2 linked regions of the Homo sapiens genome follow. The protein of the gene in region 2 interacts with the protein of the main gene of each other region in a pairwise test. Each region holds a gene or a part of one and is shown on either strand. Other genes may lie near its edges.

Evidence for each region. Proteins that work in one complex are often made in the same cells at the same time.
Region 1: the proteins of LMO4 (region 2) and CTBP2 interact in binary tests that used the Homo sapiens proteins (3 or more experiments, as listed by UniProt).

Annotation. Positions count from the first base shown.
Region 1 is NC_000010.11:124,989,564-124,993,063, forward strand, and holds part of CTBP2 (C-terminal-binding protein 2), read right to left. Parts: intron 3,250-3,500; coding exon 3,132-3,249; intron 136-3,131; coding exon 1-135. UniProt on the Homo sapiens protein: Corepressor targeting diverse transcription regulators. Functions in brown adipose tissue (BAT) differentiation. Isoform 2 probably acts as a scaffold for specialized synapses.
Region 2 is NC_000001.11:87,342,380-87,345,879, reverse strand, and holds part of LMO4 (LIM domain transcription factor LMO4), read right to left. Parts: intron 1,093-3,500; coding exon 1,084-1,092; 3' UTR 1-1,083. UniProt on the Homo sapiens protein: Transcription cofactor. Plays a role in establishing motor neuron identity, in concert with MNX1, acting, at least in part, to disrupt LDB1-LHX3 complexes thereby negatively modulating interneuron genes in motor neurons.

The DNA.
Region 1 (3,500 bases), on a different chromosome or scaffold from region 2:
TGGTTGGGAGAGGGCGCTTGGGAAGGATGTGCCACTGTCGGGAGGTTGTGAGTCACTGGGATGCCTCCAGGGATGATCCCTTCCATGGCTGCAGGAAGTCCTCCTGGAGCCACACCCACGATGCCTGGCGGATATCTAAGGAACACACAGAAATAGGGCCTTGTAAGTTCAGGGCAGAGTTGCCAAGCTCTTGGCTCTTCTACTTCTGGCCTTTTCATAAGAGACAGGAGCCCAGTGACATGAACATGGCTCACCTTGACCGACCTTCTGGGCTCAAGTGATCCCACCTCAGACACCCAAGTAGTGGCGACCACAGGCATGAGCCACCACGCCTAGCTAGTTTTTGTATTTTTTTGTAGAGATGCGGTTTTGCCAGACTGCCCAGGCTGGTCTCAAACTCTTGAGCTCAAGTGATGCCCCATCATAGGCCTCCCAGAGTCCTGGGAGTACAGGCGAGAGACACCAGGCCTGGCTAATAGTTTTTTTTTTTTTTTTTGAGATGGAGTCTCACTCTGTCGCCAGTCTGGAGTGCAGTGGCGTGAGCAATCTCAGCCCACTGCAACCTCTGCCTCCTGGGTTAAAGTGATTCTCCTGCCTCAGCCTCCCAAGTAGCTGGGACTACAGGTGTGCGCTACCACACCCGGCTAATTTTTATATTTTTAGTAGAGACGGGGTTTCACCACGTTGGCCAGGATGGTCTCAATCTCCCGACCTCGTGATCCGCCCGCCTCAGCCTCCCAAAGTGCTGGGATTACAGGCGTGAGCCACCATGCCCGGCCCTGGCTAACGATTTTTATGGGATAGTTTATCTTCCCTATCCCCAAAGCAAGGAGAAGTCTCAATTTTTATATAAAACACTGGCAACTAATTCATAAAAACAAAACTAGTCCAATCCAAACACGGGGCCACTAATTTTGTAGCTTTTAGATAAGAAGATATTAGCCCATACTATTTATGAATGTGGATACATTATACTATTTAAAAAAACCCACTTTGTACAAAATGGACTCCCAACTGTTCACCAGTTACTTCTGACTGATAAAATGATTTCCCAACAGAGTACAATGGACCCTTAGGGACTCAATGTTTGTCTCCCTCCATCCCCCTAATTCCAGTTCAAATCCCACACCTTAAAGGTGATGACCTTAAGAGGTAGAGCCCTTGGGAAGTGACTGGGTGAGGAAATGACTGGGTCATGAATGGGATCAGTGCCTTTACACAAGGGAGTCTAGTCAGTGCTCTGGCCCTCTCTCTGCCATATGAGGATGTGGGAAGAAGCTGACGGTCTGCTGCCTGGCCGTCACCAGAACCTGACCATGCTGGCAGCCTCATCTCAGACTTCCAGCCTCCAGAACTGCGAGCAAGGCATTTCTTTACAAGCCACCCAGTCTATGCTACTCAATTATGGCAGCCAGAACTCACTAAGCTTTCTAGGCTGGTTGGCTATATACTCCCATGGCCTGAGATGGGAAGTGGTATGCTTGCTGGCTGTTGGCTGGGGGCCCGCCTTCCTCGGAACGCCCAGGCTCGGGCTGGTTTTATATTGCAAGCACGAAGTGCTGTGTGAGGACACACTGCATTCGCCAACCACAGAACACAGGGTCCTCGGGCAAAGTGGGACTCAGTGTATTCACACAGACTTATCATCCATCCAGGTAGAGGAGGAGGCATCTCACTATGGTAGCCACCCCACCCCCAGCTCCTGGCCTGCCATCCTGTCACCAAGACCTTCAGAAGGACTCTGGTCATTAGGGTCCCTTCCTCAGTGCACACATACTGTTCTAGGGGGCCTAAGAGCCCCAGCTTACGTGAAGGATAAATAACAATGGAGACATGGAAGAGGTGGGCCCCCAGCTCCACCCAACAGGGGAATCTGGTGCTGTGATAGGCTCAAAATACTTTTGAGGGCCAAAAGGACGGGGCTGGATGAAATGTGAAGACAGCCATGTGACCTGCAAGCACCGGCATAGCTTCTTCAAGAGTGTCAGAGCCTTCATTACACAAACTGAATGCACCCTGGTCGTCACTGTGGCTACAGCAGGGGACATGTGGCTGGAGACATTCTCAATCATCATGAGTGGGAGTGGGAGGTGCTACTGGCATCCCGTGGGTAGAGGCCAGGGATGCCGCTGAACGTCCTACAATGCACAGGACAGGCCAGGCCTCCTACGAGAGAATGAAGAGAATGATCTGGCCCCAAATATACTTATTGCCAAGAGCTAGAAACCCTGGTTTAGAATATGCAAAAATTTTTCTTAAGATTCAAGGCTGCAACTTCATTCATTTATGCATGAGGGGGCTACTGATTTTCCTGGGAAGCCAGCAATAATGGGGGGGGGGGTGTGGGAGAAAACCGATTCGTGCATGGAAAATACCACAAAAGGAACCCCTTCTCCCTGTGAGGGCTCCTGTCTTTCCCCCACTCTGCGTTCCCAAACATGGCTCCAGTTTCTCAGCTGACCCAAACTACAGGTATCATTTTTAGTGTGTGGACAAGGTCATCATCCTGAGTTGATTGTACTATCCTGAGTTGACTGTACCAGAATGCCTTCTGTGGACATAAGATTCAAATTGGAAAATGAACTTGCTCACAGGCCTTTGCACTTGAACATCTTATCTACGTATACCTTTCTCTTTGAGAAGCCCTTTTTTTTTTTTTTTTTTTGGTGGTGGGGTGGGGTCGGGGGGTAGCAGCATTGTCTCACTCTGTGGCCTAGGCTGGAGTGCAGTGGGTGATCTCGGCTCACTGCAATCTCCACCTCCCAGCTTCAAGCACCTCTCCCACCTCAGCCTCCCTAGCAGCTGAGACTGCAGGTGTGCGCCACCACACGTGACTGGGAAGCCTTCTGGTTTTAAGATGGCTTTAGAATGAAAGGCAGTTCCTAGCACCTGTGGTCAATCACATCTGACCGAACACACCCCCTTTTAAAATAGGAGCTTCTGTTTGTTCCATGAAATTAGGCATTGGAAGAAATGGGGGCGGTGTACACAGTTCCTGCTGAGAAGGCTGATTGTTCTGACCCTGACTTAGCATCTGCGGGAGGTTAAGCTTCCGCCAAGTTTGGGCTTCTCTCCCTGGCCCCGGGGCCGTGGTGCTCACAAGCTGAGACAAAGTCAGTTCCTTTTCTCACCTGTATGTGGCACCATTGAGCTCAGGATGAATTGCTTGCTGGTCTATTACTGACCAAGGCGCTGATGTGACAAAGAATTCCTTGTTCACACAATTTCTTAAGCTTTCTGGGATGCGACCTAGGGTAAGATGATTAAAATTAATCATATTATTTTTACAAATCACAGTAAGTTCAACATTACACCTGTAGCTGCTTATGTGGGGAAATAAGCATTTGTAAAAATGTAGAACATCCAAAGGCCCAAGTGCTTGAGCTCTTCAACACTGACCTTCAGCCTCTGTGTGCCCCCCGACCCCCGAGTTTATAATGTCTGGGACTAAAGGGAATGGTTCCCTCTGTGAAGTTTAGTTCAGGGCTTACGTAAATAAA
Region 2 (3,500 bases):
CAAGTATTTATAAACACAAAAGACTTACTGTGATATAGAAGTGTAACGAAATGCTGTTAACAGAATATTCTTGACTTATAGAAAGGACCCTGTTAGAAACTACTTTGTACCCCTGCCAATAATGGCGTGGTTAAGTAATTTGAAGAATACCTTACTGGCCCAGAGCTAAATAAATATACACTCCACCTCCCTCAACTCCTTCAAATTTAAAGTGAGCTTGTTATTCAACAACAATAAAAACTAAATTTCTTCAAAATACAGAAGAGAAAAAGCAGTGTTTAAACCCAAACACCATTAAATATTTTTTCTTTTAAGTTTTTATTATTTAAATACACCATACTAGAGCAAATGTCTCTGAAAATATCACAAATAAAAGATTTTTTTTTTTCTTCATTCAGCAAATTAGAAGTAGGGGGAATTTTCTACACAGTAGCTGCTATGAGCCTGATTTTTTTTTCCAAATTTTTTTCTTTTTTTCATTCTTTTTTTTTTCTTTGCCATGGGAGTAGCAACATTAGGACAAAAACACTTACATGCATACATACATTGTATTTTACAGAGATACAATAAGTGTTTGTGATAGAATATCACAAAAGCCACATCTCTTTCCTTTATCTCATGGTCAGTTTTGATTGAAACACGTTTCCTTACAACACTTAAATATACAAAGAGCAAATAGAATGTTGTTAAGGTAAAACACAGGGTACAAACTCTGGCCAGTGCCCTGCTAATTGTTAATGAGGGTAGAAAGCAGATTTGAATGCTTCTTTTAATTAGCTTCATTAGTCATTTCCCTCCCCCCCAGCTCCCTCCCCCTCCCCAAGATGTCCTCTGGTGGATCTTTTTTCATTTTCTCTACAGTCTCCCATTAGCCCAGGTTCATGGAGTCCTTAATGTTCATATTCAGTCATTTTAATACACCAATAAATGCGGGAAGGGCAATCAAGACTAAAGAAGGTGCAATGGCATGGAGCTGGCACTGGTGCTAGCTACAAAGGTGACTTGTCTACTGAAGACACATGGGATCCACCTGTGATGAACAAATCTGAGATGAAGGCACGCATTCTGCATTACTCTGACCTTTTAGCAGACCTGCAAGAAATAAAAACGGGCATCTTAGCTAAAATGCTAAATTTGAGAGATATTAAACTCAAACATGACTGCTTTTGTCTTCCCCACATTCACTAATCTTCTTTTATTAGATTACTTTCCAACTGTGACTTGATAGAGGCTTTCTATGCTACTTACTCTGGCAGTGAAGAACTAAAGCATAACATTTTCTGCAGTTTTACTAGCAAAGAAAATGAGACAGTAAATGGACGCTCAGAAAGTTTCTGGTGTAAAGTACTACAATTAATTGCTTAACTCTGTTAAGAGCAAGTGTCTTTCCAAAAGGAATGTAACATCTTGCCCAGCAGTGGGATCTTGAATTTTTTAAATAGCGGGGACATTCCAAGACAAGTTCCTACCTAGGAAGTTTTGGGTTCATATGCTTAACCGTGTAACCTTTTGGAATGTTGCTTAAACTGCTTGTGTCTCAGTTTCCTCATCTTTAAAGAAGGGATAATGACACTGTTATGATAATTACATAATACATATGGGAGCACTTTCAACAGTGCTTGGCCCTTAATAAAAGTTCAACAAATACTGGCAGTTATCATTATTATTCCGATATCCCCATGTGAAAAATATTCACCCATATTGGTACTACCTATAGGTGTGTGTCTATATGAAAATTTCTATGTACAAATATTCACATATTTTTCACTATTTCTTATCTGCTATGTCACTTAATAGCTACACAAATATGTGATTCAATACATGCAATGTGTTAATGACCTGTGATAGATAAAAGAACATAGTTCAATGCAAGGGTGGCTTCAATGTCTAAGTCAGAAATGGAAATCCACACACTTGTCAAATACAATCTGTTTGCAATTACCAAAATGAAATAATACATATTAGGTTGTTATGGTTTTTAAATGACATTTTGAGCCTCCCAGGAAGTTCTCGTTTCACCCTTTCCCTAACTTACAAAAAGCCTGTAGTCTATTAGGAACTGCAACCCCCTACTTCCAAGCTAATTAAAGTGGTGAAGGCTTAATTCCCCAGAGTGGAAGCTCAGTGTGAGAAAGGTAATTTGTCTGTCCAGAACAAAGATGCAGCAGCAGCCAGCAAGCATATTTAATAAATGAGCATCAAATGTCTTCTACGATGGACACACACAACACCAATTATGTAACTATGGGGGAACTGCGAAGTGACATGTAGACTAGAACACTCACTAAATTTTCCTCCAACTAAAGAGATGTGATCTAACTCCTGTTCCACTGAAAACTGAAAAGCACAGGTAATTCTAGATGGCACCATCACACTTTTGAGTGGAAGAAAAAAATTCCAGAACAGGCAGCAATCTACAAAAGAAAAAATTAGCCACAATTCCTGATTTACATAACCCTCTAGAAGGCAGCATTCTCCCAAAGCTAGCCAAGCCTCCTTTAAGTGATATAGGTTATAAAATGTTGTAGATCCTTGAACACTAGTGGCCTGAGATTTCAGTCCATCTGAAATGCAAGATTTCAATCACTGTATGATTTAAAAGCTTAAAATTATTTTTCTTGGAATATACAACAGCCAATGATGCAGAACAACAACTACACTACACAGCCCAGACCCTGGGAACAAATCTCAGAATAAAAGTTTAAAGGGACCAGACAATGGGGGCCTATGTTTTCCATGCAATTAACTGCCTTTAAAGAAGGGATGTTCGAATAATCAACTCATTGCTTTTAAGCCAGAGGATCCTTGAGTATATTTACCACGCATAATACACCAAAAATGTAATTGATTCTGCGAATAGAAGGAAAATGGCCAAAATAAATGTCCAATTTTCCCTACCAAAAATATGGAGAACGAGAGAGGAGAAAATAATAAAACGAAGCCATTTGTCATTTCTCCCCATCTCATTGCCTCCAGAAAAGAAACGCCACAGGGTTTTGGGAAAATAATTTTAAAGCCTCTCCAGTTCCAAAAAGCAGTTTATGTTCCACCAGGAAGTATGTTTTCATTAACTCTTCCCCCTTGCCCTCTCATTAATATCTCTCTGGACCACGTTCAGCTTGCCCAAAACCTTTATTTATAAAAACTACCTTGTGAATTGACCGTGCTCATGGTGAGCTGGGCACCAAGGGCAAAAATGTGAGACACTTACGCCAACAGGGAAATGTTCTTAATTAACAGCACCCCCAAAACACAGCTTCTCACCAATGTCTGACAAGAACATTTCCATAAGTTGTATTTCCTTATGCCTTTTAAGAGCTATTAATTTTTGAAGGCCACCTGTCTCTTTTTTGGCCTCCAACATTAAGAAAACATACACTAATAGGTTCTTATTCATTGCCTAAAATATAGTGTTCCAAAATGAATACCCTACCACTGCCATCCTGGAAAAGGTGTGGAAAACAGATTTCAATGAAAGGCATAAGACATGTAATCTCATC